Homo sapiens: one gene and its partners. The protein of the gene in region 1 interacts with the protein of each later gene in a biochemical or structural test. Each region holds a gene or a part of one and is shown on either strand. Other genes may lie near its edges.

Region 1 (7,721 bases):
CGGTGAAAGAACCAGTCCCTGGGCCCCAAGGATGCCGGGGAAACAGGACCTTCTCCTTTCCTGGAGCTGGTTTAGCTGGATATGGGAGGGGGTTTGGCTGCCTGTGCCCAGGAGCTAGACTGCCTTGAGGCTGCTGTCCTTTCACAGCCATGGAGTAGAGGCCTAAGTTGACACTGCCCTGGGCAGACAAGACAGGAGCTGTCGCCCCAGGCCTGTGCTGCCCAGCCAGGAACCCTGTACTGCTGCTGCGACCTGATGCTGCCAGTCTGTTAAAATAAAGATAAGAGACTTGGACTCCAGACCCCTGTGTGACTGTCCCAATTTCTTCTTTCCAGGCAAGCAGGGCAAGGAGATCTTTGGAGCAAGATCATAACTGAGGCACAGGCTAATGGGTTGATGGTGTGGTACAGGCATAAGAAGGCACACAGCAGTGCAGACAGACTTTATTAGTGATATCAATACAGCAGAGGTGCCCATGGAGCAGGGGGAAGGGACCCATGCCTGGACCAGTCCCTTCCTCCTTCTGCCCCTGCTGGGTCCAGGAGGATGAGGCCTGGCCTGGACCAGTTCCTCCTGTTCCACCTGAAACACATGGGGATGGAGAACCAGGGCTGGCCTTGCTTCCTGCTCCTCTTGTTACCACTCCAGTGTTATCACTTCCTTGAAGGGATTAGATCTCTCCCTCCCCAGCTCCTAGGCAGGGAACCGTAGCTACTGGGGAGGGGCATATTTGGGAGGCCTGAGGCCTAGGAATAGCCTCTAGACCCCTCCCTGACCCACACCCTTTAGTTCCCTGGGGCCCAACACAAGCAGGTGGAGGGAAGGTGGGGGCTTCTTCATGGGGTATGGGCCCCCAGCCGTTTGGGCTTCAGGGAGCCCCACAGCGACTGAACACCCCTGCGGACAGTCCACCCTACACGCCGTGCCACAGACTCAGCAGGGGGTGCTGGGAGGCAGGAGGTGGAGGCCTGGGAACGGGCATCCAGACACTTCTGGTAGCGAAGCTGCGGAGGCAAGCAGGGCAGTCACTCCCCAGCCTACCTCCCATGGGGCCACGCCACCACCACACCACCCTACTAGTAGCTTACCATGCACGCAGCCTGCACAGCCTCTGAGAGGCTGGCAGCATTGGGCTCGCACCAGAACATGTGGCAGCAGAAGGAGGCTGGGCCGGCAGCCATGATGAATGCAAACGTGTGGACATCTCTGCCCACGGCCAGGAAGGAGAGGAAACGCACCCGACACTCTCCCAGCACTGCCTCTGTCTGCATGGAGGGAACTCAGTTAAAAAGGAACACCAACCCCACACTGTGTTCCACATCCATCTTAGCAGCTCTTCCCCTCACCCCCAGTCTCCCCTCTATGGCAAGGCGCAGCCACGACTTCTACCCCAGCTCTTTACCTGCTGGTGCAAGATGGTGAGGGTAGCAGGGGCCACACTGACATGACTTGGGGTCCATTGTTCACGGCTGCTGGAGGACAGGACTGACTCGAGGGCCCCATTAATCACATCTACCCCTAGAACATATGGACACAAGATACCACTGAGGGTAGACAGAGGATACCCCAGCTCTACCCTGGACCTCTAGTTCCACCCAATCAAACCCAGGGCCTTTGCCCCATCCCCACTTTGCCAGCCTACATTTTGGACAACGCTGTCCAAGTATCCCTTCCCTGGGGCTCTCCTCCCCTGGCTTCAGTAACTGGACATTTTCCTACTTTTTAAAATCTTGGATCCTAGGCTCGTTATTTTCACCGGCTCTGCCTATTCCTCCACACTTCTGAACTGACTGACCTCTCAAAGTTCTGATTTCCCCAAATCATGCTCTCTCAGCGCTCATCACACTCAGACATCACATTGCTTCACACCACAATAACTCCCAAATCAGACCCTACAGGCCAGTCCTCTCCCAAGACCCAATTATTTTTTAAGATATCTATCTGAGGAGTGATTACTCTGTATCACATTGTGCTAAGTCATTACAGTGTATTACCTCATTTGTGCCCACACAACAACATCACAATAGATTACTTTATTTCCATTTTACAAATAAGGAAACGGAAGAGATAGGTAATATGCCTTAGGTCACATCGAGGAATGGGGACCTGAGCTCAGGCAGTCTGATTCCAGAGCCTGGGTTCTTAGCCATGCCTTTCTCCTACCTCTTCTCTATATTACTAGTTTTCAGAACTAGAAGGGCTTTCAAGATCTTAGTTCTACTCAAGAATGTCTATAATGTGCTCAAGAGCCAAGGAACCCAAGGTTCCTGACTTTCAGATCAATCAACTTTCCCTTATAACACATGGCCTCCTCCACCTCAAACTGCTGTTAAACATTTCCCCTCATGGATCCCACTTTTGCTTGCACTCAGCAGAGCACCAAGGCAGGAGCACATGTTGTGGCAAAGGCATCAGTTCTAGTCCCCACACTCATACGCTGGCTGTGTGATCTACTGTCTCTGCACAATGCCAGTGCAAAAGGCACATGCCTCTGTGGTCCACTCCCAGGCCCTCTGCCCCTTTTAGTGGCTCTCAGCTCCCACTAGGAGCAGACCACGTGGACTCTTTTGGGCAGAGGACAAATGTCTTCCTTGCATGTCTTCTCCCATCTTGGCCTTGCTCATCTGACTTCTAGCTGGATCAAGGCCAAACTGCTCCCAAAAGCATACAAGTCTTCCAAAAACTGGCCTCACCAGAGCTGTCAAGCTTCATATTTTACTGCTCCCTGAGCTTCAGATGATTTGTGTAGCATTATTATTAACAACTAATCTTGGCAAATGGCCTGTAAAGCAGATGGGGAATACAAAGCAAGAGAAGAGAATGCCCTTGAGAGACACAGACTGCAACTGAGGGAAAAGCCTCTGTCTTGAGTGCCCTTTCCCTGCTGGACTGAGAAACTTCAGACTGTCATCCTTCAGGGCTCCAACTAGGTGCTGTCTAGGAAGCCATGCCTGCTGCAGGGCAGGGAGAGGACAACTCTGAGACAACTCTTACCATAACGTCTTGTAACTGCTGGAAAACTTTTTTCCACACTGGGCCGTGGCCATCTCAAGAACAGAAATGGAATTTAATTCATCCCTCTGTCCCCAATTCTAACACAGGGCTTATCTGCTGAAGAAATTCCAGATGCATGAGCAAGTCACTCTCAAGGCAACAAGGGCAAATGCACCCGAACTGGTAAAACCAAGTGTCACAGAAGTGGATGGGCCAGGTCAGATTGCAGAGTGCTTCAAAAGCCAGGCAGAGGGGTGTGATGTTTATGACATTTAGGCCAGGGCAATTGGAAATCTCAAAGTTCAGGTGTGTGAAAGGGACATCATAGTCAAACTGCTGAATAGATGGGGCTGTGGGAGATGGAGCCTGGCCTCAGAGTCTTGGGAAGTTTGGCAGGGAAGCAGTGAAAGCAGTGGACCAAGGTATGGAAAAAGGCTGTCAGATTTGATAACTCAGGACTAAAACCTACACTGTGACCTTGACCTCCAGCCCCACATGCAATCCCCCTAATCCTGCTGTGCTTTTCTCTTCTTTTTTTTTTGTATCAGTTGTTGCCTTCTAACATACTCCATGGTTTACTCATTTTATTGTCTGTCTCTCCTTGCTAGAATGTCAGCTAAATAAAAGCAGGGATCTTTGTCAGTTTTGTTGATTAATGCATGCCAAGAAGCTAGAATAGTGCCTGACATGTATCAGGCATTCATTACCACTTGTTAAATAAATGAATAATTAATGAATGAATATTGCAGCTTCTGGATGGGCTAATGTTTAAAAACGAGCATAAGATAAAGCAGGAAGTAAGTTTAGAGACCACTTGTCCAAGCGGAGCAGTCAAGGGTCACAGGCAGTTGATCTGGCATAGGGAGGACCAGAGTCAAGTGGTAGATGGAAAGAAGCACATATGGGAATGGGGGTAACAAATGGAAGAGCCAACAAGGGTTTAGAAGTTGAGGACGAGAAGGAGGAAAGCAAAGGCGTAAGGGTCAGCATGCTTTTCTCACCTCCAGCTCCAAGTCTTTGGCAGTGCCATCGAATCCAAATGAAATACCCACTCCACTCTGCAAATCCAAACCTTCTTTCAAAACCTCAGTTCAATCCCCACCTTTTCTAAGAAGGGTCCCCTCTTTCAATGTAAGATTTTGGACGTGAAAGTCAGCACGGTATAAGGGAAAGTGCAGAGAATTAAAGATGACCGGGGTTTGACTCCCAGGTCTAGCTTTCCTGGCCATGTAATCTGAAGCAAGTCTCATTTATTCATTAATTCATTTTTTATTTCATTCATCAAACATTTGTTGAGTTCTTCCTGTGTGTCTTTTGACATGATACCCTACCACTTCTTTTTCAAGTAGCCTCTTTTCTTCTTCCTGCCTCTCTCCAGTTGTCACTATCCTTGGCAGTTTCATCCTCTACACATCCATTGAATGTTGGAGGGCCTCAAGGCTATGACTAGCTTCATTTCCCTTCTCACTTCAGGATGCCCACTTTCCAGGGCCAAGCTACTCTACATCCATGGCTTTGATTACCTCTACAACCCAATAATGCCAAAACTCCTATCTCCAGCCCAGACCTCTCCTCTCAGCTCCAGATCTGTGAATCTAACTGCCAACCTGACTTTGCCTCTCAGATTCCCCAAAGGCATCTCAAACTCAGCATGTCCAAAAGTGAGCTCACAATCTCTACGCTCAAATTGGCCTCTTCAAGCATCTGCCACCTTGAAAGAAATAATCCACTATCCAGAAGGTCCAACAGCCAGGAACTTAGGAGTCATCCTTGTCCCTCACCCACATCGAACCAATCACTGAGGCCTGTTGACTATACCCGTCTAAACAGCTCTTGAATCCACGCACTCTTCTTCAGCTCCATTGTTGCCCAAGATACTCTCATTACTGGCCAGGACTACAGCAAGAGCCTCCTAACTGAGCTGCTCACATCCACCTCCACCCACTTAACAGTCCCCTCCATGAAATAGCCAAAGTGAGCTTTCAAAATTCAAATCTGATTAAGGCAAGTGCACTCTCGGAGACTTCAATAACTCCTTGCTGCCCTTAGGATGAAGAAAAAATCATTAACATAGCCCCTGAGGTCCCTGACCTGGCAGCCTGACCACTGCCCAGCTGTCGGCCTCATCTTGCATTGGCCTTCTTTCAGTACCTTGGAAATGCCAAAGTGCCTCCCACTGTAGACCCTGATCTTCCCCCATCCCACCCCCACCTCCATTCCACTTGACCGCATTCACTTCTACTTATTTTTTGGATTTCAGTTCAAATGTCACTTTCACAGGGAAGTCTTTTACAACCTCAGACTAGATGAAATTCCTTTGTTATATCTTGCTACTTTCTCTCAACGAATAACTCACACATTTATTTGTGTGATTATTTTATTAATTCCTGGTTTTTTTCTACCATAACCTTCTATAACCTCTAGGAAAATGGGACTGTGGCCACTGTTCTCCCTGTGCCTAGTCCAGGGCCTGCCACATGGTAAGCTTCAAAGGTATTTGTTAAGTGAATAAACAAATAAATAGCAGACACTAGGAAAGCACTGAAATATAAGAGTTAACCAGATCAGGCCAGGCACAGTGGCTCACGCCTGTAATCCCGGCACTCTCAGAGGCCGAGGCAGGTGGATCACTTGAGGTCAGGAGTTCAAGACCAGCCCTGGCCAACACAGTGAAACCCCGTCTCCACTAAACATACAAAAATTAACCAGGCGTGGTGGCGGGAGCCTGTAATCCCAGCTATTCAGGAGGCTAAGGCAGGAGAATTGCTTGAACCCAGGAGGCGGAGGTTGCAGTGAGCTAAGATCACGCCACCGCACTCCAGCCTGGCGGACAGAGCGAGACTTGTCTTTAAAAAAAAAAAAAAAAAAATTCTTTGCAACAATGAAGTATGTGACAATTATGCTCACTGTTTCCTTCTCCAGATGCTCCCAGCCCACAGCTGGTGCTGTAACACTAAACCCAGCTACAGGCTGCTGTCTGGTGTCCTCCAGTCATCTAACATCAGCCTCCCAATCCCACCAAAGCTTTTCCATGGGATGAAGGAGTGGGGTCTCCCTTTGTGCCTGGTTCAGCACCACTCACGTGGCTGATGCTCAGCGAAGGCGTGCTGACTGCTGCTATAGGCAGGACAGGAAATAGAGCTAGGACAGAAGTATGGGGAGGTGGGATGCATTTTAAAGGGTAGGGAGACACCAAGCATGAGGAAGGTCTGGTAGAAGAAGTATTGGAAGGCAGAGGGTAGGGGCAGAGTTTTAGGATCAAGGTAGCAGCCCCTGGGTATAGAAGGACACACATACCAACAGGTTTAGCAACAGGTACATTCCCCAGGTAATAGACTTGGAACTTCTGGACCAACTCATTCTTAGGCGCTGGGAATTCCACTATGGGAAAGAAGAGAAGGTTGATCATGGTGGCAGACCTTGCTCACCCGCAGCCCCACCAGCAGGGCATAAGCTGGACACTTGCCCAGCCGAGGCCCTACTTTCATCTCGTCCCCTGCCTCCCTTTAACCGGAGTCCCTCCACGTATTGGAGTATTCAGTCTTCATGTGTTCATTTTTCTATCAGCGCTGTCCAGGAGCTCATGCCTTTCCTTGGGTCACCCACCTTTGCCAACAAAGCTGAGCTGGACCTGGAGGGGTTTTGACACTGACCTTGGAAAGGGACATCCACAAGTTTAGAGTGGTCCAGGGAGAGTCCATTTACCAAGCAGCGGGCATTACGCCGTTCGGCCATGATCTGAGGAAGGAAGGGAGGCGAGGAGCCAGGGAGAATCTATTAGAGCCTCATTGCCCTGGGGCCCCCCTACAGCACTCAGTGACCCCACCCACACCCTTGTAGAGCAAAGGTGGCAACTAGTCCAGGGAGTGGAGGGGGCCGTGCCTTAGAGCAGATCTCATGCAGGCTGGTGGCGATGTTCTTGGCAGGTGCCTCACAGCGAAACACGTGGCACTTGAGCATCTGGGTCAGCTTATCACGAGCTACGTAGGCAAAGTCCCTGTTGGGGAAGGGGCACCTCAGTGTCTCCCAGTACCATCCAGTGCTGAGCCTGGTCCCCACCCCACCCACGTCCTCCCTGCCCATCACAGCTCCTCCAGGGCTTCTGCCCACAGCTGGTCCCCCATAGGTGCTGCCTTCTTGGGGGGGAGGGGTAGACAGGCAAGCATGCTGAGGTGGAGGGTAATGGTGGAGCATAGCGGGTGGGAAGGGGCAGGGCAGAAGAGGGGAGCTTGGGTGCTTCCAGGCATCTGGTCCAGGTGTAGGAGGGGGAAAATAGGCATAGTACCTCTCTCTGGGTCCAGCAGCACAAGAGAGGCAAATAACAGAGTTAGAGAGGAGGACTCTGATGCTGGATGAACTCCCACCCTCGAATCCCAAGCCCTATTCCCACCTTCCACTGTCCCGCCCGACGCCCCACACGCGGATGCTGATGATGGGTTGGGCGTGCAGCAGTGCCTGGCTCTGTGGCTCCACTAGCTTTAGTGTCTCATCCTCCAGCTGCAGTAGCAGATCCTTTCCCTGCAGGACCAGAAGCAGGCACTCAGTGGGACTCCAGCCAGGATGGTGGCTGATCTCTGACCCCTGCAGCTCAGGGGATGTTAGCCACAGCTCTGGGGCCCCTGCTTTGGTGTCAGACCGCCCGCCCTGCAGGCCTCACTCTAGTGGAGGTCACGTGTCATCTCTCACATTGACTCCACCGTTGTTAGGCGACTATCTCCCAAGGTCCT
Region 2 (5,972 bases), on another chromosome or scaffold:
TCCAAGAAAGTCCAATCTGATGGGCAGATTGTGCTTGTAGATGACTGGTATGGATTTTCAGATGTGAACTCCAAACTGAATTCTTAGAATTACAATATGATGGAATTCAGCTGCTAATCTAACTTAATTATATACTAATTATATCTAACTTAATTATATACTATATACTTAATCTTAAATTGATACCAGTAGAAGCAAATGCATTAGGAATTTGAGCCATGTCTACCACTAGGCACACCACCACTATGGAATCAGAATCTAAGTGAAGCTTGAGTACCCTTTCACATACTCTGTATATTGATTCAAAACTAGTGGTAAGCACTGGGCAAAAATGGAATAGAGCTTAATGGACAGCCAGTAGGCTCAGCCATCATATTCTTGAAAACCTAGAAAATGCCAGTATTCTGGGTCTCTTAAATTCATTATTTTAAAGTCTGGATGATCTGGCTGGGTGCGGCACATCACTTGGGCTCAGGAAGTTCAAGATCAGCCTGGACAACATGGTGAAACCTGTCTCTACGAAAAATCCAAAAAAATTAGCCCCGTGTGGTAGCGCACACCTGTAGTCCCAGCTATTCTGGAGGCTGAGGCAGGAGAATCACTTGAACCTGGGAGTTGGAGGTTGCAATGAGCTATCACGCCACTGCACTCCAGCGAGGGCAACAGAGCAAGACTCTGTCTCAAAAAAAAAGAAAGTCTGAATGATCCATATTGCTGGACTTTGTTTTTTGTTTATTATATATTGCATATATTTTTATTATATTTTATTTGGCTTGATAGACTTTTTGGCTTAAGACTCCTGCTCATAGCTAGCAGTGAATTTTAAGAAGCTAGTGCTGATTATAACTACTCTTCATATCTGTGTTTGCCTAAGTTTGGGGCCATTATAAGTAGTTTTTTTTTTTAATATTAATGCTTAAGAAGTTAAATTTATTCTATAATGTGCCATGTGTGAAGTTGAGAGATAATGGTCTTTTTCTACATATACTCCCTCTCTTATTTTTAATGTATTTCGCCACTTTAGGATTAAACTGCAAATATCTCATGAAGCTGCTGCCTGTATCACTGGTCTCCGGGCAGCCATGGAGGCTTTGGTTGTTGAAGTAACCAAACAACCTGCTATCATCAGCCAGTTGGACCCCGTAAATGAACGTATGCTGAACATGATCCGTCAGATCTCTAGACCCTCAGCTGCTGGTATCAACCTTATGATTGGCAGTACACGGTGAGTACCAATATACTTCTTACTGAACCAAGTAGAGGGGAGAGATCTTATGTAGGCCTAGAATTCCTGAAGTTAGTGATAGAAGCCCTATTACTTAAGTAAAATTCTAGATATAGATAGAGCTATATAGATAGAGAGTTTGATGTTCTGAGTTCTAACATACTCAGAACAAAGAATGTCATTTACTTTTTTGTTAGTAGTTGGTCTGCTGCATCAGTGCATGTTGGTAGTGTTAGAAGGAACTTACAAATGCACATACATAGTTCAGAGTGGGTCACATGACAGGGAAGTGACACAGCCCAGATAGCCCTTTTTCCATGGTACTGTTTTGGCATCTCTAAAGAAAAATATTGATGAGATGTTAAATTGTTTCTGTATCAAATGTATATGTGTTTTTGTTTATCTTAAACAACTAGAGCATGGATATCTTAAAGAAATGAGAAATTTATCTTAATTCTTAAAATTTTTATTTGCTTCAGGTTTTAAAATTTTTTCTTTGCCCACTAATTTTTATTTACATATACTTGATACTTACCAAAAAGGCAAGAAGAGTGATACAATGTATAGCCATATAGTCTTTATTTAGGTTCACTAATTTTCAGCATTTTGTATTTGCTTAATATTTGTGATGAAGTAGCAGGCATTACCACATTTTACATCAATACACTTCATGTCTTTTAAGAACATGGCCACAATACCACAATCACACCCCAAAACCTTAAGTGTTTTAGTAATACTATAATATACTAAGGTACTAAAATTCTTCCAGTTATCCAAAAATGACCTCTAATTCCTCATCAAAAATGATGTATTGGCATTTGATCTATCTGTAAGATGGGTAGATTGTTATCCTCATCCTCTTTAATATAAACAAGGAAACCAGGCACAGATAAGACCCAAGGTCATACAGCTAATAACTGATAGAACCAGGTTCAAACCCAGGCAACATGGCTCCTGAAACAGTGCTCTTACTATGCTATTCTGTGGCCCTCCTAGGTGGTTAAATGCATAGAATAATTCAATAACCGTCATAGGCAGATAACAAATGAAGTATTCATGGGTGTTTAGGAGAAGAGAGATTATTTTTGGTAGGAGGGCTGGTAAGCAAGGAGCCGCTGTGTATATAATCTGTTTCTATGAAGGATAACAGTCCGGAAACTAGAAAGAAAGGGATATATGCAAGAGAGTTTAGGATGTATGAATATGTGGTGGCTTAAATTACAGTAGTAGAATTGCAATGGGGAGATGTGACTGGATTAGACAGATTTGTGGTAGAATCAATAGGAATTGGTGATGGACTAAAATGGAATAGTGCAATGAAAGAAGGAAGACAGATTACAGTCATTTATTTTTATTTTTATTTTTTTTTAAATTTATTTATTTATTTATTTATTTATTTTGAGAGTCAGTTTTGCCCTGTTGTCCAGGCTGGAGTGCAGTGGTGCCATCTTGGCTCACTGCAACCTCTGCCTTCTGGGTTCAAGTGATCCTCCTGCCTCAACCCCCCGAGCAGCTGGGATTACAGGCACACACTGCCACGCCCAGCTAATTTTTGTATTTTTAGTAGAAACAGGGTTTTGCCATGTTGCCCAGGCTAGTCTCTAACTCCTGACGTCAGGTGATCCACCCACCTCAGCCTCCCAAAGTGCTGGGATTACAAACCTGAACCACTGCACCCAGCCACACAGCCATATTTCTGACTTAGCTGCTGAATTGGTGGTGTTATTCTCGAAGAAAAGCTGCACAGGAATAATAAGCAGATTGGGGATATGTTTAATTGAAGTTGTTGACAGTCCATCTTGATTTCTGCAATTTTTTATTCGCTTTATTTTCCTTATTTGCCACATGAAACAGATTTAGGCATTATTACCAAGGACATTTTTCAAAATCATATTTCAGAATTATTGCAGGAAAACATCTGGTGATAAAGACCAAATAGTTTATTGGCAGCTCCAGGAACCCTCTCCTAATGCTTGCCTTCTTGGAACACTTATGTTATTGAACTGAGTAAGAGGACTGTCTTAAAGTTCTAATGACATACTGCCAAAATTCAAAACCTTTGAGATTGAACCAGAACTTCAGAAAAACAGATGGATACAATTGATGACTGTTTTAGAATAGCAGATCAATTTTATTTCAATTTCTATTTGTGCATTTGGCTTCATTCCCTTTATTAAATTTTCAAATATAACTAAATGTGTACATTTGGTAAGTCGTTGGGAAATAATAAGAATGCTTTGCTAAAGTGATGGTTTTGTGCTTTTCCTAGGTATGGAGATGGTCCACGTCCTCCCAAGATGGCCCGATACGACAATGGAAGCGGATATAGAAGGGGAGGTTCTAGTTACAGTGGTGGAGGCTATGGCGGTGGCTATAGCAGTGGAGGCTATGGTAGCGGAGGCTATGGTGGCAGCGCCAACTCCTTTCGGGCAGGATATGGTGCAGGTGTTGGTGGAGGCTATAGAGGAGTTTCCCGAGGTGGCTTTAGAGGCAACTCTGGAGGAGACTACAGAGGGCCTAGTGGAGGCTACAGAGGATCTGGGGGATTCCAGCGAGGAGGTGGTAGGGGGGCCTATGGAACTGGCTACTTTGGACAGGGAAGAGGAGGTGGCGGCTATTAAAACTTGGTTATGTCAGTTCCTGTGTGTAGACAGTAAGGAAAAAAAGGCATGCTATGTGTTACGTGTTTTTTCCAGTATGTTTATTTGCCACCAAAAAGTAAATGCATTTTCACCCATTCTGTGGTTCATTGTAGTTTAAGGAAACCAAGCATATAGATGCATTAGTGATTTTGTTTATATTATGTAAAATATAACGATCTCTTAAAAATACCACAGTTTGTATTTTTTCTTTAAGGAGTAAAGATTTGCCTTTAAATAACTTGGTATTTTCCTGGCTTTCGTTTAATACAATAGAAAATAAAGTATTACACCGAATACTTGCCGTGTAGTTTGTTTGTTGACCTCGTATGTTAGAAAATTTTACAATGCCAGCTACATCTGTTGATTTTAAATGTCAGAGAAGTTGTACCCTGTTTCAAAAGTATACTAAGTGATACTACTTGTAATAGAATAAATCATCTTGGAATTGAATTGTTACCTTTTGAAGTAAATACTGGCAAGTGCACAAGCCACATAAACCTGAATAAAACTTTTGACCTAGGGTTGAACATTTGGCTTCCTCCCATATTCTGTCTTTGAATAAGACCAAGGCCAGCATTTTCTTTTCTAAGTTAGTTTCCACGATGACAATTAAAAGCAATAAAATCAATCCATAGAACTCTTGAATAAAAGGTAAATGAAGCTTCACTGATGTGACACATTTACCTACCTTACTGTGTTGCAAAAGGTTTTTGTTAAGCTACTTTGTTTTAATAGAGATATTCATACATTTATAGCACATTACAGTTTCCAGTGAATTTTTTCACATTTCTCATTTGAGCAAGATACAGTGGAGAGGGCAAAGGTACTGGATTACACAGAACTGGGTTTGTCTTAATTCTGTTCTCAACCATGTGGATGATCTTGGGCATATTTTTGTTTTGGTTTCCTTTTCAAAGTCCTTTATCCTGCATACATGTTTTAGATCACCTTCAGCAATTATTGTTAAGCTGATGGCACCTATCTGCAGACTCACAAGTCTGTCTCCAACCGAAATTTCCTTTCTGAGCCATGTAAACAACTGCACACTGAACATGCGTCTCTGCTTAAATATCCCACAGAAAAAAATCTCAGTGCCTTCCAAACTGACCTTCCCCTCCCCACCTACCCTGTGTCCTGACAGTACTATGTTCTCTGCTCTGCTCTTTGGAGTTTCAGCTGCTTAATTGCTTAAGCCACCATCTCTAGTCAGCTCAAAATATCTTTCAATATACTTTTATAGTTGAGTTGCCTCTGTTCTATTCAGTCTTAGTTTGGACATACAGTGCCACAGCAACTTAACTGATCCTGCCTACAGGCCTGCCTCAAGATGATCTCCACTACAGCTACAGTAAACATTCCCAAACAAATCCAGTTTCATACCCCCTCTCCTGACTTAAACTAATGGTTCTTAACTGCCGTCAGGGTAGAGGCTAAACTCCCTTCTTAGCCACTCACTCCGGCTCTACCTTCATTTCTGCTGTACAGCTGTAGCTAGCCAAACTGAACTAGCACCATCGATTGATCATGAGCTTTCTCTCCCTTTGCAAGTTGTGAAAACTCCCATAAAAGGTATAAAATCAGTAATGGTTCATTTGAATGGTACTCATCCCTCCAACAAATTCAATTAGAAATGTAAATTGATAAATGGCCAAAAGTTGTCAAAGTGCATTCTCTGAAGGTTGAAAGAAGCACTAAGGCACAGTTCTAACGTTACCATGTTCAGCTAAAGACCTGAGGAGCTCCATGTGTAGCTTCCCCCGGTCTTGTGCCCCACATATTCCAGCTGTCCTCCCTAAACTCGTTTGTCTCTTAACCGCAGTGCTCTGCTTGGTACTTTCTCCCTCTGCCATGACCCAGAAAGTGCTTCCACATAGCCATGGACTTGTCTCATTTGTTTTCCTTATTGGGGATCACAGTTCTGCATTGCCTGTTACCTAATGTCTGAAAGCAGCTGTTTCACTAGTTGCTTACATGGGAGGAAAAGTTCAGTGCCATTTGTATTTGTCATAGCTGTAAGTGGGAATCCAGTTACCAAAGAATCCATCATAAGGTCCAGAAATCATTCCTTTTCTTAGATGAGACTTAAAAGAGCAGAAGGCTACGTA
Region 3 (8,836 bases), on another chromosome or scaffold:
AGTTCCTCTCATTACCTTCCCGTGGCTCCATGAGGATGATGCGAGATGACAGAGGCCCACAGCTGCAGGCAGCTGGTGTGGCGCTTCATGGCAGGGCCACAGCCTGGGTTTCCTGCCAAGGGGCTCTTTGCTTGCATCACAGATGGCAGGGAGGGGAGGCTCCCCGTGTGTCAGGGAGCAGCAAGGTGGATCCGCAGCACGGGCGTCTCCGGAGCCTCTACTGGGCCTGGGCGTTTGTACATCGCCAAGACAGGAGGCAGGCTTCTGAGCAGTTTCCTGTGAGAGTAAGTCCAGGTGTGTGGGGCTTACAGTGGCCACACAAAGGCGAATGGCTCCGTGGGTGAGAGAGCCGGGAGGGCTCGCAGAACGATGAGGACGTCCCGTGCTGTAAGAGGGACAGTGGGCAGAGTTAAGGTAAGGCTGGGAAGGCTGACGCCCCCTGTGCCTGGAGAGCTAGGTGTGGAGGAAATGGACCAAAAGTCAGGCTGGAAGAGGGAGCCTCCTGGTGCAGGGCATCGGGTTCCACCTCAGAGCACTCAGAGGCGAGGATGGGCCACAGAGAAATAGAAATAGTTTTGGAAAAGAAAATATGAATGCTTTCCCTAAGTCCTAGACCAAGCTGAGGGGAAGCACCTTTCTGTCTGAGAACAGGAAAAGGCCAGTATTGCCAGGAGCCAGTGAGATGCCAGATGCCGGTGGGAGAGTCAAGGCCCTCCCAAGAACAAACATGCTTTGCATAGCTCAGCAGGGATCAATCAGGTGCTCTCTGAAATCCACCTCAGTGATGGCTACTGGGTGGAGCCGACGATGAAAGTGCCCTTGCCAGGTTTCTTTTCATGTAGGTTGTCTCCCGCCTCTGAGGGCATGCAGTTGAGTCTCCCAACAGTGGAGGGCAGGAGGGAAATGAACGTGGACAGAAAGCTCCTGTTCAGCAGCACTTTCACAGACACTCATCCCGCCTACACTCCCCGTGAGCAGGTGGCTTGGTCAGCGTTCTGTTTCTAGGAGATGGGACACTGGCTGCTGGGGGGTAGCTGGTGAGGTGTAAGTGATCGTGGCTAGGCCAGTTAGGAGACTCTGACAGTCCAGGAAGAGATGATAGGGGCATGCAGGAAGGTGTTGAAGGTGAAGACAAAAAAGACAGGCAGGTACCCAGATTTAGAGAACTGACCAGGCTGACAGTTATAAGAAGCTGGTGTCAGGGATGATTCCCTGGTTTCTGGGCTGAGGGACGAGGTGGGCAGACCTGTCCTGAGATGGGAGCTAAAGAAGGGGGCCCCTGCTGTAGCTGAGGAGGCTGCCAGGTAGGCCCATCACAGACAGGTGACAGCCTGGCCACGGCCCATTATCACACCTCAGACCAGCTCCATGCTTGATGGGCAGCTCATCTCAAGTTGAAAAGCCACAGAAGCGTATCTCTGGGAAACACTGAGGGTCTGCCTGCCTCTGTAGACCTGGGAGGTCAGCAGATACCACTGAGGCCAAAAAATATGGGTGAGGTTTTAGAGTACATGAAACGGGGATTCATACTGGGGAGGTGCACGAACCGACTCAAGGGCGTCACGTGGACCTATTCCAGGGCTCCTCTTCTGAGCATTTCCAGGCTCTGAGTGGCATTCTAGATTGGGGAGGGCGTGGCTGGGTTAACTGAGTTCCAAGACACAAGGGCCTTAGAGTGACACAAGAAAGTGTCCAGTGTCCCGACCTGTGGGACAGACTGCAGCCCAGAGAGATGCCTCTCTGTCCCGTGTGGCCAGGCCTTCAGTGTCCTGGGGACAGAGCGTGCCCGCCTCCCCTCCACGCCTCAGATGCTACAGCTGCTGCCAGTAGAGCTAAACAGACATAGAGGCATCTCGCCCTCTCTGCCTAGACCAGTTTTGTGTCCCAGGCCATGACCACACGGAGGGCCTGGACATTTGCCTGGGCCTGGCTCCTCACCAGACGGGGCCTAGACAAGCCGCCTCCTTCACGCCATCGTTTTCCCACACAGGTTTATCTGAGGACCGGGGTGAGTCTGGCAGGGTGGAGGCAGAAGAGTTCTGGGACAGTGAGAGAACGTGAGGAGCTGATCTGTATCTTCCCCTTCTCTGTGCCTAGGAGAAAAGCAGCCTCCCAGTCAGACAAGCCAGCCGAGAAGAAGGAAGATGAAAGCCAAATGGTGAGCAAGCAGCCCGCCCCACCCTCAGGCTCCCCACTGAGATGAGCGCATCGCCAGGGAGGCTCTCTGGTCTCAGGCGAGGCCTTTGGGACATGCGTGGGATGGGCGCTTCATCAGGTGATTCACAGGAGGGGCGGAGGGTCTCTGCGGTGCTTGTCCCTGCGCCACCCTGGCCCCAGCAGCAGGCCTGCCCTCACTGAGCACCCCCTACCAGACACTGCTCCACCCTTGGAGCTGCAGCCTGAGGCGCTGGCCGCTGCACCGCAGGGCTACCTCGCCTTCCCAGGAGCCCCGGGGAGCACAGACCAGCCAGGGTCTCGGCGGGACTGGGACTCCAGGAGTACACTGCAGAGGGGCACGTCTGCCAGAAGCCCAGAGAGGTTTTTATTTTCAAATTATTTCTGTTTCTAAAGACTCCTCTTCCAGCAGGAGCTTCAGGTGAGCTGTGGCAAAGGAGCCCTGGACCCCTGGCTCTTGTCCTTACCAGGCAGCCCAGAGCCAGCCTGGCTGCCAGAGCTCCCAACATCTGCTTCCAGTTAGGGCGGCTAATTCTCTTTTCCTCCATGTTAAGCTTTTCCTATAAAAAGACTCCTACTGACAGGGCTAAGTTTAGCCTTAACTACAAATGCCTTGAAGGTTCCACCTCAGTGCAGAATCAGAGAGGAAATAAAACTGCCAGGGACCAGAGCAGGCTTCCTGCCCTGTCCTCCCATCAGTCAGGGTCATGCTGGTGTTACCCTGAGGCTATAGCCCTCCCAGCTGATCCACGCCTCTCAGCCCCGTCCTGGGCACATATGGGTCCCTTTGCCCCACCAGCCAACTCCCATTCAGCCTGCACTTCCCTGCATCACCCTTACACCTTAAAAAACAGCCTCCCGGCCGGCTCAACACTTCACACTTGTAGTCCCAGCACTTTGGGAGGCCGAGGCAGACGGATCACCTGAGGTCAGGAGTTTGAGACCAGCCTGGCCAACATAGTGAAACGTCATCTCTACTAAAAATACAAAATTAGCGGGGCATGGTGGCGCATGCCTGTAATCCCAGCTACTCGGGAGGCTGAGGCAGGAGAATTGCTTGAACCTGGGAGGCGGAGGTTGTAGTGAGCAGAGATCGCACCATTGCACTCCAGCCTGGGCAACAAGAACGAGACTCCGTCTCAAAAACAAAACAAACAACAACAACAAAAAAACAGCCTCCCGACCCCCAGGCCTCACAAAGCTCCTCACTACTTGATCCCAGCCCCGGTCTTCTCCCGAGGCCCTCTGCACAGGCACGACTGCTTGTGGAGACTCGTTGTCTCCTGCCAGATCTTAGGCCCTTGGAGGGCGAGGCCTGGGCTTCTCACACGTCCACCATTCCCATACCTTGCACATGCTGTGGAGTTTAGCCAACTGACTTGCCATGAATTTCTGAAATTGCAGGCCACGGGATAATCACAGACATCAAAATACTGTGGCCTCGCTCCAGCCACAGCCCTGGGGATCTGAAGACATCGCTGGCCTTTCTTAGTCAGGTGCCAGTATGTTGCAGTCCCAGCCCCTGAAAACTAAAACTCTCGCTCCTGGAGCTCTAAGAAGAATGGATTTCAAAGCCCAGGGGCTTCTGGAAGAGGAACATTCTTGAAACCTTCAACCCCAAGGATAGCACTCTCCTCCTCAGACCCCCATCTTTTCTGTCTTGTTTTTCACAGGCCCCTGGCTACAGCTGGTTCTTGTTTGCCATGGTCCCTTCTCATACCCAGGACTAGCGTCTAAAGAGAGCAGGGCCTTCAGAAGATCCACACACCACACAAGTGCAGTGGGAGGGAGAGAGGCTGATGGCCGGCACTCGTTTTCTTGTTCATGCTTCCTGGTATTTCCCCAATTCTCTGCAGTGAACATGCACTAAGTTTATCATTAACAGAGAAGAAAGAAGGCTTATTTGAAAGACGAAAAGAGCCCCAAATGTGGAGTCCGGTGACTTGGGCAGGCCCTCTGCCATGGCAGAGCTGGCCCTGGGCCAATGGAGTTACTGCTCCGAGGACCAGTTCCACCACCTGAAAACCTGCACCCAGGCATGGCCGCCTCACAGACTGTGCGACTGCCAGAGGTGGGGTGCAAGTCTCTGTGCCCAGGGCCTGGGAGTGCTGCGGCCACCTCTTTCCCAGCCTAGAGTCAAAGCATAACTTCCCTTTTAAGCAGGGAGGGTTTTAAAAAAATAACATACAAGAAAAGATGATAATTTTTTAGTGACTCTGATGTCACCCTGTATCGCTTTCATCGTGGCCCCCACATGTGTGTGTTGATTGACATAATCTGTTATTCAGCTGTCTTTAAAATGAGGAGGCCTGAGAACCTCATCCCAGCACCTGCAGGCTGGCACCTGCTTTTGCCTCTCGACCAGAGCCTCCCGGGACTTACTCGTTCACCACACAGATACGCAGGGCGTTCCTGATTCTCGTGTGGGGATGTAGTGAGCAGAGGAGACAAAGCAAAGACCTCTGCCCACGGTGACAAGGGAGAGGTTCTTTGCTTCAGATCAGAATGACACATCAGGTTGGGTGGCCGCCTGTCAACAGCTCAAATGCTGTGCATTCTGCTTCATCAAGTGGAAGGATTACTCTTATTACTTAATCAGTGGCATGTTCCTGATGCTGAAAAACCATCCTGACGCACATGCCATGCATGATGAGTGTTAGGTGTCCCCACTGCTGGATGAACACGTCCACTGTTCGAGCACTGCCACAGACCTATTACACGGGCAGGTGTGTGTGCTGCACAGGGGGAGCAGGCCAGTCCACGGGGTGCTCATGAGAAGTCAGTGAGATGACATACGGGAGGCATCCGGCCCAAGGGGGGCTCAGGGCTTGCGGGTGTTGAGGGCCAGAAGGAAGTTCTATATCACCCTGCTGAGAGCCTGTAGCTCCCTGTAGCCTTCCCCTTCCCCAGCTTTGTCCACTGGCTCGATTCTCTCCCCACTGAGATTTTGCGTTTTCACTTTTAAATATTTAATGTTTTGCTAATTATAAAAGTCATATGTGTTCATTGGGAACATTTGGAAAACTGAGGTTTTATGAAGTGTCCAATGATGTCCTGCCCTGGCCCCAGGTGGCCTTCCTAAACAGACTCCCTTCTTCTCCATTTTAGGAAGATCCTAGTACCTCCCCCTCTCCGGGGACCCGAGCAGCCAGCCAGCCACCTAACTCCTCAGGTGAGAGGGCGCCCCCCGCTGACCCCAGTGAGGCATGAGGTCTCAGAGTGGGAGGGGGGACCCTTCGGACAGGACCCTCTGATCCAGCCTCTTTAGTATGCCTGAGCAGAGGGCCAGGCCACAGGGAAGCCCATTTCTTATGGGTCCCCCAGAGCCTCCCCCAGGAGCCCATGTGGGAGCACAGGAAGTGCTAGAGCAGAGCCACTGTGATGGGTCCCCAGGGTGACCTGCGTGTCACCTTCCCACCAGGACCCTGAGTCCCGCACGAGAGAAGGCACTTGCCTGACGGCACATATTCAGGGTGGGAGTTTGTGTCCAGGGCTCCTGAGGCAGGCTGGGGCCAGTGCTCTTAAGAGGTATCAGTGTCAGGACTCATGTCTCCCAGTGAAACGCCAGCTGATGACCGACATTACAGAGATGGCAGTAGATCTCGCTCCACCCAAAACGCAGCCCCTTCCCTGGCTCAGGTTTCTCTCTGTCTAAGCTGTGGCAGATGGGAGGTAGTTAGGAGAGTATGATGAGGCTTCGCAGGGGAGGAAGACCCCAGGGTTGGTTGTTCATTCGACAAACATCTTTGCAGCACCTGCTCTGTGCCAGGCCTGTGCTCATGAGCACAGCGAGGAGAGACAGGGGCATCAGGCTGCCCTAGCTGGGCAGAGGAGGCTCTTGCCAGCTGTTCGCGTGTGTCTCTGGGGCATGCTCAGGTTGGGTGTCGCCTCCCTGTGAAACTGCACGCCATGTCCTCTCCTCCTAAGATTTTTGCCTGGTGTCTTGATTTGCCAGGATGCATAGGTTCCTGGCTGATGAACGTGATCAATACCCCTGCCCTGTTTGCTTCTTCCAACAGCCCAGTGAGTGGGCTACGTGGTTCCCATCTGTGTGCAAAGTGGTTTGCTCAAGGCCACACACCTGGGACATGTCTGTAGCCCCAGGTCTAGTGCCTGCAGGCCCAGCGCCTGTCCCAGAAGGTGGCTTTGAGGAAAACTGCCTCAATCCCACCGTTGGTCCGCAGGGTGCCAAGGCTTAGCTCTGGGCCAGGCAGCTGCCCCACTACCCCCTAGAGATTTTGTCTTCTGCCTCTGCTTGTCCTGCACAGTCAACGAATTCAAGTTAATGCAACAAATCTTTTGGAGTAGAACAAAATATAATCCAATACCACTTAAAAAAGACAAGCCAGCCAGAATGGGACAGAGCCAGGCGCAGCATGGGAGGCAGACTAAGGAGCCCCTCAGTAGCAGGTGCCGGGCCGAGGGGCCTGGCCGCCACACCACACGTGGGAGCAAGGCTGTGCTGGGATGTCCGGGGAGGTCGTGCTTGCTCGCCCTGTGGCTCTAGTCACTGGGTCCCTTACCAGCAGGCTCACATTCCAGAGAGACCTGGCACAGTGAAGGGCTCAGAACCAGATCACAGGTCAGGGTCAACCTGACCTAGGCCATGGGGGACTGAGAACAAGGTGCCAGGTTTTGGCTTAACTCAATCAGACCTTCCTGCCACGGGGCTCTGCACCCTTGGCATGGGTGAGGGCTTCCTGTTGGGGTGTTTAGGGGATTGGGGTGGCTACTGAGTCCCTTCACCTGTGAGGTTCTTCATCCATGAAATGAACTGACAGAGGCTGGCCGGAAGCCCTGGGAGCGGAGCAACTCGGTGGAGAAGCCTGTGTCCTCGATTCTGTCCAGGTGAGCTGCCCCAGGAAGGCCTGAGCAGCGAGGCTGGTGGGGCAGAGGCGGGCGCTGGCGCCGATTCACATGTCTGTTTCATTCCATTGCCGTAGAACCCCGTCTGTGGCAAAGAGCCCCGAAGCTAAGAGCCCCCTTCAGTCGCAGCCTCACTCTAGGTACCGAACAACCCTCCTGCTCACATGTCCCCCAGGGTTTGGGGCTCCTCTGTCCCCCGTCCCGTGACTAACACCCTTGCACGCTGTCTCACGTCCTGGCATTTAACAACTTGCTCTGCGAAGGTGGTCTGTTCTTTCAGACCCAGGACCTCGGGGTCCTGTCAGTCAGCTGCTCCGTCTTTTCCCTCTGAGAGAGAGACCAAGGGCAAGGAGGGCAGTGACCTGTCCACAGAGGTAGTGCAGGGGGGGGCCAACATGGAGTCCCAGCTCTGGACTCACTACGTGTGACAGTGGGCAAGTTAGGGGACCTCTCCAAGCCTCTGTTTTCCCCCCACAAAGTGAGGTCTGTTAACCCCTGCTGCACAGGGTGGTGGTGGGGACAGCTGTGAGCAACAGCTGGACATGGGGTGTGGTCACTAGCCAGGGCTGCACCCTACAGTTCAACCAGTCCTAGCACTGGCGCTGAGCCCTACCCCTTTCCTCCAGCCCAGAGTCCTTCCTCTGCGGCCGGCACACAGAATCAGTTTCCCCACAGACATACTGACCATATTTCCCAAGCCAAAAGCTGGCATGACAACATGATAGAATATTTGGAACTGAGATTGCCCAAAAAGGCAGAGGCAGCCAGCCACATAGTATCTGGAGGTACATGTGGCCTGAATTGGAAGGCCTCTAGAACCTGCGTCAAGAATGTCTCCATCGCCACCACAAATTGAAGGGAAACCACCCTTATCACAGAGCAGGAGGCATTGAAACTGGCCTTGCAGAGCTGAACAGGTGGTGAGAGCAGAGCAGTGCAGGTGGACAGAGATGAGGAAGTCTTAGCAGTCAGCTGGGGTTTGTCCAAGGCTTGTGGTCAGCCAGGCCGTGTGCTGGGGACAGTCCCTGCCTGCAAAGAGCACCGTGTGAACAAGGCCACTGTGGTCCTGAGGGGTGCTCTGGACAGGGTGCAGGGCCACATGGTGGAAGGGACAGGGTGCTTTGCGGAGTGGGGTGGGGCAAGCCTCTGTCGGGAGCTGGCATTTTCGTTGACCCGGACGAGGAGGAGTCTGCTCTGCGGAGATCATGGGGACAGCCTCCCAAGCTGAAGGAAGGGTAAGTGCCAGGGCCCTGAGCCTGCAGCCACCCGCCAAGCTCCCCCGCACCTCCACCTGGAAGCAGACAGGCCATGGGGCAGGGGAACGGGAAGGGTGAGGAAGAGGGTGTGGGGGAGCGCGGAGTTAGAAGTTTGCATTGTGTTCATGCGCAGGGCCCAGTCATGGAACTTGAGGCACAGGGTGCCATGGTGGAGGCTGGGAAGGGGAAGGCAACCAGAGTGGGCAAAACGAGGGCCCTGGAGCAGACACGGCAGCAAGGGGAGCCTGCAGCGCTCCCAGCGGACTCCGCCACGTCCTGCTGGTGGAGCAAAGGCGGGCTGCCATGTTGTGAGTGGCCAAGGGTCGCTCACTGGGCAGGAACATTGTCAAGGCCATTCATGCTTGGAATAGGGTCTCTCTTCAGCTCTGAGGCAAATCTGTTCTCTAATTTTCAGATGACTTCAAGGGGAACGTGTACCACCACCCCTCTGGTGCGTCACATTGCTTAGGAAGCCTGCTGTGTTTATCACTGGGTGGCTGTCAGGGCTGAGATGGAGAGGGCCAGGGCCTGGCGAGGTG
Region 4 (8,836 bases), on another chromosome or scaffold:
GAATCTCTCTGAGGATAACAATTTGAGTTGAAAGTTCTTTTCTGCTTTTTGCATTCTGTTTTCTCCAAATTCAGATCCTATTTATTTATCTTTAGTTTTTCTTTCATTTTGGACGTGTTCCTCAAATATCTAGCAATCCTTGGCTGTGCATTTATGTTTAAGCATGGAAGACACTGACAAACTGATTGGGAGCTCTGTGTATATGAGAGGGGCTTGTTACCTGTCAGGTTTCTGCTTTATGTGAATAGGGTAAGGAACTGTTACTACTGCTAGGGGACTCTCAAATTCAAGGATTTAAGAGACATTCAGCCTAAGGAAAGGCTGGTTGATGGTTCCGAATATAGATTTACGTATTTTTAGCCCCAAGTTTTACTCCTTTCCTTCCCTAGCACCCCCTAGTGTCTGAGAATCCTGACCTTCTCTGAGGTTCTCTGGGCAAGCCAGCCTTCTTTTGATTTTATCCCTTTCTGCCATCAGTACTCTAAACTGGTTTCTTCCTGCTCTGTAAGTTACCACTCATATTTGTTCTTTGTCTTTCAGAATGTACAAACAAGATTTTCATCTTCTGATTACCTCCTCTCTCTGTTTATTATGGGTTTGTGTATTTTTGAGTTCCTTGCAATGGGTTTGTAAAAGGTCAACTTGGCTGAGCTAAACTCCATTTCCCAAAATTCCCTTTCTCTCTCTTTTTTTTTTGAGACAAAGTCTCACTTTGTCACCCAGGCTGGAGTGCAGTGGCACCACCTCAGGCTCACTGCATTCTCCACCTCTTGGGTTCAAGTGATTCTCCTACCTCTGCCTTCCGAGTAGCTGGGATTATAGGCACACGCCACCATGCCCAGCTTAAGTTTTCTATTAGTAGAGACAGGGTTTCACCATGTTGGCCAGGCTGGTCTCTAACTCCTGACCTCAAGTGATCCACTCGCCTCCGCGTCCCAAAGTGCTGGGATTACAGGCGTGAGCCACCGTGCCTGGCAGTCTTTCCCATATGTTTCTGATTAGGTTGGGTCACAGGGAGATTTTCACACCTAACATGAGACATTTATTGCTGGACAACCAAAAACATTCTCTTTCCCCAGAAAAGCACACAAAGTCTTTTTTTTTTGTCTTTAAGATAATATTAGTTCATCCTTCTCCACCTGATTCACACTCCCTCTTTCATGTTCTGTAACTTAAATACTGAAATATAAGGTTAACTCTTATTAACACATGTTAGATAATAAGGAAGAAAACTAATGAACCAAAAAATATTTGGTTAATACACACACACACACACACACACATATTTAAACACAAATATATCAAATTAAGGAAGAAATATTTGTAACTATTGTAGTCCATATTTCTGCAATGGTCATGTGGTCATAGCTGGTATATATGTTCTTCCACTACTCATTCCATATTCCCTTTGCTCTAAGTAAGTACTTCAGCCAGTTCGGATTCCTTGCCTCATGGGGTGACCCAGGCTTTCATTCTTGAAAGATATGGGCTATTAGCAGTTCTTTCTGAATTACTTCTGCTGTTTGCAGTTCTACAAAACCCTTTGCAATTTTCCGTGGACTTGAATCTCAGGACATGGGAAATACTAAGAGATGTCCTAGAGGATCTCTTGCATTTCAGACACACTTCACTTCACCTGTATTGTGCAATAGTCACTCAAATTCCTCTTGAAAGTTAGGGTCAGTTATCCCCAGTGAATACAGTAACCCTCTCCATTGCCTCTTGATTTGGAACTTCAGAGTAAAGTTGGGGTCTCAACTTCAGGTTAGTGGAATCATTTGTTGTGTCCCCTAGTGGATGTGTTCGTCTCTTTGAAACTAGACTTTTAGAACAACAAAGCCTAAAGTCACAGGGATAGGAAATAAATATTTTGCCAACACTGAATTTATTAGTCTTCATTGATTTCCCAAAGAAATGAAAGAAAAAGCCTCCTAGCACTCATTAAAAGTCATGAAAGGCATCACTGTCTACTACTCAGTCACCTAAGCCAGAAACCTTGGAATCATCTTAAATTCTTCCCTTACAACTATCATTTTATTTCTACTGGTGACAAAATCCTATCAATTCTACCTTATTTTACATCTCTCACTTTTATCCCCTCCTCTACATTCTCATATCAGTCACTGCCTTAGACTAGGCATCACCTTCACTTACCCAAATTGTAAAGATGATCTTTAAACTTTTTGTCTCTGTCCACTATTTTTCTGCTAAAGCAATCTTTTAAAAATCAGACTATATTTAGTGGCTCTAAGTGCTTATAAGGTAACACCAAACTCCTTAACCAGCTGAATTAATTTATCTGTTATAATCGAGATCCAAGTCAGATGGCTTTAACAAGTTAGAAGTTTATTCTCTCTTAGGACTTAGGTGATGGTTCAGGAATCCAGTTCCTTCTGATTTACCTGGTCTTGGATATTTCACCACCATGTCAGAACCAGCATGAAAAAGGAAATGGAGAAGAGGAGGATGTGCCCTTTCCTTTAAGGGGACAACCCAGAAGATGTGCAAATCATTTTCACTCTCAGCTCCTTGGCCAGAACTTGGCTGCCAGTTCTAGCTGCAAGAGATATTGAGAAAGAGAGTCTTGTCTGGGGGGCCTTGTGTCTAGCTACAGGAGGCCTGTTATTGTAGATAAGTGGGGAATGGGTATTGGAAGACCACCAGTAGTCTCTGCCACATGAGGCATACACAATCTTCTGGAGAGTGATCCTCGCTTACTTCTTTACCTTATTTTTTAGTGTGCTGCTTTTCCACATTTCCCTCTTTATCAGCTCTCTTGACTCTGTTTCCCCTTTGCATTAGCCATGCTAAACTATTTGCACTTCCAAACATGCTCTGCTGATACACGTTTCTCCGCCTTTCCTCTTGCTTCCTTAGCTTGAGGTGCCCTTGCCACATACTTTCCTCATCTCCAACTCATTCTGTCAGCTTGATTTCAGAGAAGTTGTCTTTTAAAACTCAACATAAGCCTCTCCAATTCTGTTTTCCTTATTGTGTACACATAGACTTGAGACATTACATCTCTTGGTACTTATTTACACTTAGATTATCTTTATATTTTGTTGTAAACTCTTTGAGGGCACATATGACATTTTATTCTTGTATCTCTTGGATGTAATGTAATGCCTGACAGATAAAGGATGTGTACTTTCTTTTTACTGGATGAGCAAGTGGGTTTATAGCAAAAATAACTGTGCAGACTTTTTAAAATGTCAGAACCTACTCTTAAGATAGGGCTACTGTTTCTTTTTTTTTTTTTTTTAACTTTTGTCAATCAAAATGTTAGTGCTAGCTCTAACAATATTTATAATCATCCTATATTTTCTTGTTAGTCTTTTCATATTTAGTTTTTAGTTACAATTTAATTCCAGAAGTGCTCAGAGTTAGTTATGGAATTTGTTAATTTTTTTCTCTTTAAAATGAGCAGCCTTTTCTGTCTCCTAAGGCACAGTATTTATAATTGCTTTTTTTTTTTTTTTTTTTTGAGACGGAGTCTCACTCTTGTCACCCAGTCTAGAGTGCAATAGCGTGATCTCAGCTCACTGCAACCTCTGCCTCCCAGGTTCAAGTGATTCTCCTGCCTCAGCCTCCCAAGCAGCTGGGATTTGCAGGCACCTGCCACCACACCTGGCTAAATTTTTGTATTTTTTTTTTTTTTTTTTTTTTAGTAGAGATAGGGTTTCACCATGTTGGCCAGGCTGGTCTTGAACTCTTGATCTCAGGTGATCTGCCCATCTCTGCCTCCCAAAGTGCTGTGATTACAAGTGTGAGCCACTGCGCCAGGCCTGTAATTGCTTTTTAACCGTTCAGTATATCAGTGACTTGCGGCAGGAGATGTGTTGAAGTAAGTTAGATAATACTGACATGATTTCCAAAGCCTGTCCTAAGACCTTCTGAGCACTGCCACCTTAACATACTGGTTCTAAGATATTGGTGACTCAGGATTAATTTAATGACTGAAAAGAGTCATTGTTGTAAACAAATTCTAAGGCAAGAGTGCCTTAAATATTCTTACATGGAGAATTTTTTTTTTCTGCTTTACTGTCTTGAGTAATATCTTTTGTTTTACTTGTAGATTTGATGGTCCTCGAAGATTTGAGGATTTAGGGTCAAGGTGTGAAGGACCGAGACCCAAAGGGCCTCGTTTTGAAGGAAATCGCCCCGATGGGCCAAGACCCAGATATGAAGGTCACCCAGCAGAGGGCACTAAAAGCAAGTGGGGAATGATTCCCCGGGGGCCAGCATCTCAATTTTATATTACCCCCAGTACATCCCTAAGTCCTCGACAGAGTGGACCACAGTGGAAAGGCCCCAAACCAGCTTTTGGACAGCAGCATCAGCAGCAACCTAAGTCACAAGCAGAACCTCTTTCAGGAAACAAAGAACCATTAGCAGACACCAGTAGTAACCAGCAGAAGAATTTTAAAATGCAATCAGCTGCATTTTCCATTGCTGCAGATGTAAAGGATGTCAAGGCGGCTCAGTCAAATGAGAATCTAAGCGACTCTCAACAAGAGCCACCTAAAAGTGAAGTCTCGGAAGGGCCCGTAGAGCCCTCTAATTGGGACCAGAATGTTCAAAGTATGGAGACTCAAATCGACAAAGCCCAAGCTGTTACTCAGCCTGTACCCCTTGCGAATAAGCCTGTACCTGCTCAATCTACTTTTCCTTCAAAAACAGGGGGGATGGAGGGAGGAACAGCAGTAGCAACATCATCATTAACAGCAGATAATGATTTTAAACCTGTGGGTATTGGTCTACCCCATTCAGAAAACAACCAAGATAAAGGCCTGCCTCGGCCAGATAATAGAGATAATAGATTAGAAGGCAATAGAGGCAACAGCTCATCTTACAGAGGTCCTGGGCAAAGCAGAATGGAAGACACACGGGATAAAGGTCTAGTAAACAGAGGTCGCGGCCAGGCAATCAGTCGAGGCCCAGGATTGGTCAAGCAAGAAGACTTTCGGGATAAGATGATGGGTAGAAGAGAAGATAGTCGAGAGAAGATGAACAGAGGAGAAGGTAGCCGGGACAGAGGGTTGGTGAGGCCTGGAAGCAGTCGGGAGAAAGTGCCAGGTGGTCTTCAAGGGAGCCAGGACAGGGGTGCAGCTGGCAGCCGAGAAAGGGGACCACCTCGGAGGGCTGGCAGTCAGGAGAGGGGACCTCTTCGAAGGGCTGGGAGTAGAGAGAGAATACCACCCCGAAGAGCTGGGAGCAGGGAGAGAGGACCACCTCGAGGGCCTGGCAGTCGAGAAAGGGGACTGGGAAGATCAGATTTTGGTCGTGATAGAGGTCCATTCAGACCAGAACCAGGAGATGGTGGGGAAAAAATGTATCCATATCACCGGGATGAGCCTCCTAGGGCTCCATGGAACCATGGAGAAGAGCGAGGGCATGAAGAGTTTCCATTAGATGGTAGAAATGCTCCAATGGAACGAGAAAGACTCGATGACTGGGATAGAGAGAGATACTGGAGAGAATGTGAACGTGACTATCAAGATGATACACTAGAGCTCTATAACAGAGAGGACAGGTTCTCAGCACCACCATCTCGGTCTCATGATGGAGATAGGCGAGGCCCTTGGTGGGATGATTGGGAGAGAGACCAGGATATGGATGAGGACTACAATAGGGAAATGGAAAGGGACATGGACAGGGATGTGGATCGGATTTCAAGACCTATGGATATGTATGATAGAAGTTTGGATAATGAGTGGGACAGAGATTATGGGAGACCACTGGATGAACAAGAATCACAGTTTCGTGAACGGGATATTCCATCTCTTCCACCTTTACCGCCCCTCCCACCTCTTCCACCTTTGGATAGATATCGGGATGATAGATGGAGAGAAGAAAGAAATCGAGAGCATGGGTATGATCGAGATTTCCGTGATAGGGGTGAGTTGAGGATTCGAGAGTATCCAGAAAGAGGAGATACATGGCGGGAAAAGCGAGATTATGTTCCTGACAGAATGGACTGGGAAAGAGAACGGTTGTCAGACAGATGGTACCCATCTGATGTGGATAGACATTCCCCCATGGCGGAACATATGCCCTCCTCACATCATTCCTCAGAAATGATGGGGTCCGATGCAAGCTTAGACTCTGACCAAGGCCTTGGAGGGGTAATGGTTCTCAGTCAGAGGCAGCATGAAATCATTTTGAAAGCTGCACAAGAACTGAAAATGCTTCGGTAAGTTGACTCCTTCAGATCCTTTCTTTTAATAAAAACCACATTCAGACTGCTCTTTTTAAAGTGATATGATATATTTGAATGGAATCATTTTACTTCAAGTTCTTATCACATACTTTTAATTTATATTTCTGGTCATTCAGTGCTGTTTTAGGGTTAGAATGGGTATTTAGGAACTGTGTTAATGATAAACTTATGCCCTAAGATGTGAAAATTGATTGCTGTCTTGGCCTTTGTAGAAGTGTTGCTGGCATGCCATGCCTGTGCATGTTTCAAGTGTCAAACTTCAACTTTTCAGTGCTCTGGATTTCACAGGGTTCATGTGTAACCTTCATTTTTTCCAGTAATCAGTTTGTTCTTTGGTATTAGATCTGATAGACTTTATATTCACTAATCATTGATAAAACTTTGGAAAGTGCTGTATTTTTCTTTGTTGAAGCTAAGAATGGTTTGCTTAGGAGCATCCTCAGATTTGTCTTAACTATTGATACTTTCTTTTGGGGATGTTTTATCTTTCATTATAACTAAAAGCAGATATTTCTCCTTGAGGATGTTATTTGTTTCTACATAACCAAATGTTTTCTTTGTGAAATGGAAAATAGGATTTCTTGACTTACAATCAACTGTGTATAGGTATCTACATAATTTTCCTCTTTTCTTGTGGTAACAACAATAACAAAAGCTAACATTTATTGCATGCTTACTCCGGGCCAGGAACTGTACTAAGTGTGTTGTGTATAATAAACTCATTTAATCCTTAAACCAGCTGTATCTTGGGATAGGAATTTAGAAGTCAGTGACAGATTGAAAACTTTTTTAAAGCAATTTTTTTGAGAAAGTCAATTAATGATTAGGTTTTGATAAATTCCAATGTATTTCTTCCATTTTTCAATTCTGGTTTACATTTGTGGATCTTAACAATAAATTATAACTTAAACTTTAGAACTAGGAAAGAAAAATACGGTGAAGAAAAGGTAATGATGAAAGACCAGATACGGCAGGTTTGTATGGTCTATAGCTAAGAGGTTTATTTTTTCCAGATTACTCATGAAGAAAATGTGGAAAGCATGCTATAGAATATTTAGCTACTACACTATTCACTTTTAAGTTATAGACACCTTTAATTTTAACACCTACCGTGTAACTGGGCACTTGCTAATAATTGAGTGTATATTATGTCAGTCTGTCTATCTCAAAGGCCTGCAAAGATAAGGTAGTATTATCCCCACTTCACAAATGACACTAAAGTTCAAAGAGGTTAAGTTCCCTTGGCTAGTAAGTGGCAAACCCGGCCTTTGAACTCAATCTGTCTAAAACTCTAAAATCTGTGTTATTTATGGAGAATACCAAGCTGATTGGTGTTGTTAAGCTGCCAAGGTTTCTTTTTTTTTCCTTTTTAAATTTCTTTTTAATTCGTTATTGCTTTGCATGGTAATGCTGGATAAAAGGTGCTGCTGCTGCTTCATCCTTTTTTAAAGCTTTCTAGGCAACATGAACATAATTAAACAATATATAGGGAGTGATGGATAATGTCATAGCCGAATACAAGTCGTTTATGTTGTGTCAGTGTAAAGTCGTAAGGAGTATCATAAGGGATGTGATGATGGGATTTACCTGAGCAGTAAATAATCTTACACACTTGACCCTTACTTTGTGGTCCCTCATTTGTGGACCCTCATTTGGGTCACTTTAATGTAAGGAGAAAATTGTAAAAGGTCTTAAGAAATTGTAGTGGATTTTACCTATGTTTAAGGTAGGCATTGTGAAAAAAAGTAAAAGGAATTTCGTCAGTTTAAAGAAAAAACCGAAGGATTACATAATTATCTTCAGGAATATGAAATGTTGTTTTTAAAGGTATAGACTGACAGTTGTTCTCACCATCTACAGCAGGGGCCATAAATTAAAATGTCCCCAAGAATCAGATAACAAAAATGAGTGAAAGTGGGCCAAGTATAACTCTGTAGAGTACGGTGAAGATTGTGACAGGTTGTTTCATCTAACATGGGCAGCCTCTACTGCACTCAGCTGATTGTTGGCATGTGGGAATGTAGGCCTGGTGTTACCATATCTCTTTAAGATTTGAATTTATATATGAAATATTTTGCTTTGTAAATATGACAGCTAATTTCAAATTTTAAAAACTGATGTGAAAGCCACATTTTGAAAACCTTTTTAGGCCATATTTGGCCCATGGGCCACCATTTTGCAACCTCTGGTCTAAAGAGTTGAAAAAAATAGGCCGGGCGTGGTGGCTTACGCCTGTAATCCTAGCACTTTGGGAAGCTGAGGCAGGCGGATCATGAGGTCAGGAGTTCGAGACCAGCCTGGCCAATATAGTGAAACCCCGTCTCTACTAAAAAAATACAAATAATTAGCCGGGCGCGGTGGTGCATGCCTGTAGACCCAGCTACTCGGGAGGCTGAGGCAGGAGAATCACTTGAACCCGGGAGGCAGAGGTTGTAGTGAGCTGAGATCGCGCCATTGCACTCCAGCCCAGGCGACAGAGTGAGACTCTGTCTCAAAAAAAAAAAAAAAAAAATAGCAAGAGAGCTTTTGGTTGGATTAAAGAAAAACATAACAAGTAGATGAGATAGTAGAAAACAACTGAGGCAGGTTGTAGAATCTATTCTTGAATATCTTCAA

The links.
Region 2: the proteins of APBB1 (region 1) and DHX9 form a complex in vitro, tested with the Homo sapiens proteins (one study listed by BioGRID).
Region 3: the proteins of APBB1 (region 1) and EVL form a complex in vitro, tested with the Homo sapiens proteins (2 studies listed by BioGRID).
Region 4: the proteins of APBB1 (region 1) and YLPM1 form a complex in vitro, tested with the Homo sapiens proteins (one study listed by BioGRID).

What each region holds. Positions count from the first base shown.
Region 1 is NC_000011.10:6,394,698-6,402,418, forward strand, and holds the end of APBB1 (amyloid beta precursor protein binding family B member 1), read right to left. Parts: intron 7,513-7,721; coding exon 7,385-7,512; intron 7,286-7,384; coding exon 7,280-7,285; intron 6,992-7,279; coding exon 6,877-6,991; intron 6,733-6,876; coding exon 6,648-6,732; intron 6,376-6,647; coding exon 6,292-6,375; intron 1,519-6,291; coding exon 1,403-1,518; intron 1,266-1,402; coding exon 1,089-1,265; intron 1,005-1,088; coding exon 837-1,004; 3' UTR 428-836; downstream 1-427. UniProt on the Homo sapiens protein: Transcription coregulator that can have both coactivator and corepressor functions. Adapter protein that forms a transcriptionally active complex with the gamma-secretase-derived amyloid precursor protein (APP) intracellular domain.
Region 2 is NC_000001.11:182,883,589-182,889,560, forward strand, and holds the end of DHX9 (ATP-dependent RNA helicase A), read left to right. Parts: coding exon 1-47; intron 48-1,024; coding exon 1,025-1,225; intron 1,226-3,494; coding exon 3,495-3,846; 3' UTR 3,847-4,394; downstream 4,395-5,972. UniProt on the Homo sapiens protein: Multifunctional ATP-dependent nucleic acid helicase that unwinds DNA and RNA in a 3' to 5' direction and that plays important roles in many processes, such as DNA replication, transcriptional activation, post-transcriptional RNA regulation, mRNA translation and RNA-mediated gene silencing.
Region 3 is NC_000014.9:100,130,622-100,139,457, forward strand, and holds part of EVL (ena/VASP-like protein), read left to right. Parts: intron 1-15; exon of another isoform or gene 16-2,097; coding exon 2,098-2,158; intron 2,159-2,425; coding exon of another isoform or gene 2,426-2,538; intron 2,539-3,579; coding exon of another isoform or gene 3,580-3,667; exon of another isoform or gene 3,668-5,277; intron 5,278-5,283; coding exon 5,284-5,347; intron 5,348-6,956; coding exon 6,957-7,023; intron 7,024-7,118; coding exon 7,119-7,181; exon of another isoform or gene 7,182-8,276; intron 8,277-8,712; exon of another isoform or gene 8,713-8,743; intron 8,744-8,836. UniProt on the Homo sapiens protein: Ena/VASP proteins are actin-associated proteins involved in a range of processes dependent on cytoskeleton remodeling and cell polarity such as axon guidance and lamellipodial and filopodial dynamics in migrating cells.
Region 4 is NC_000014.9:74,793,505-74,802,340, forward strand, and holds part of YLPM1 (YLP motif-containing protein 1), read left to right. Parts: intron 1-4,075; coding exon 4,076-6,193; intron 6,194-8,836. UniProt on the Homo sapiens protein: Plays a role in the reduction of telomerase activity during differentiation of embryonic stem cells by binding to the core promoter of TERT and controlling its down-regulation.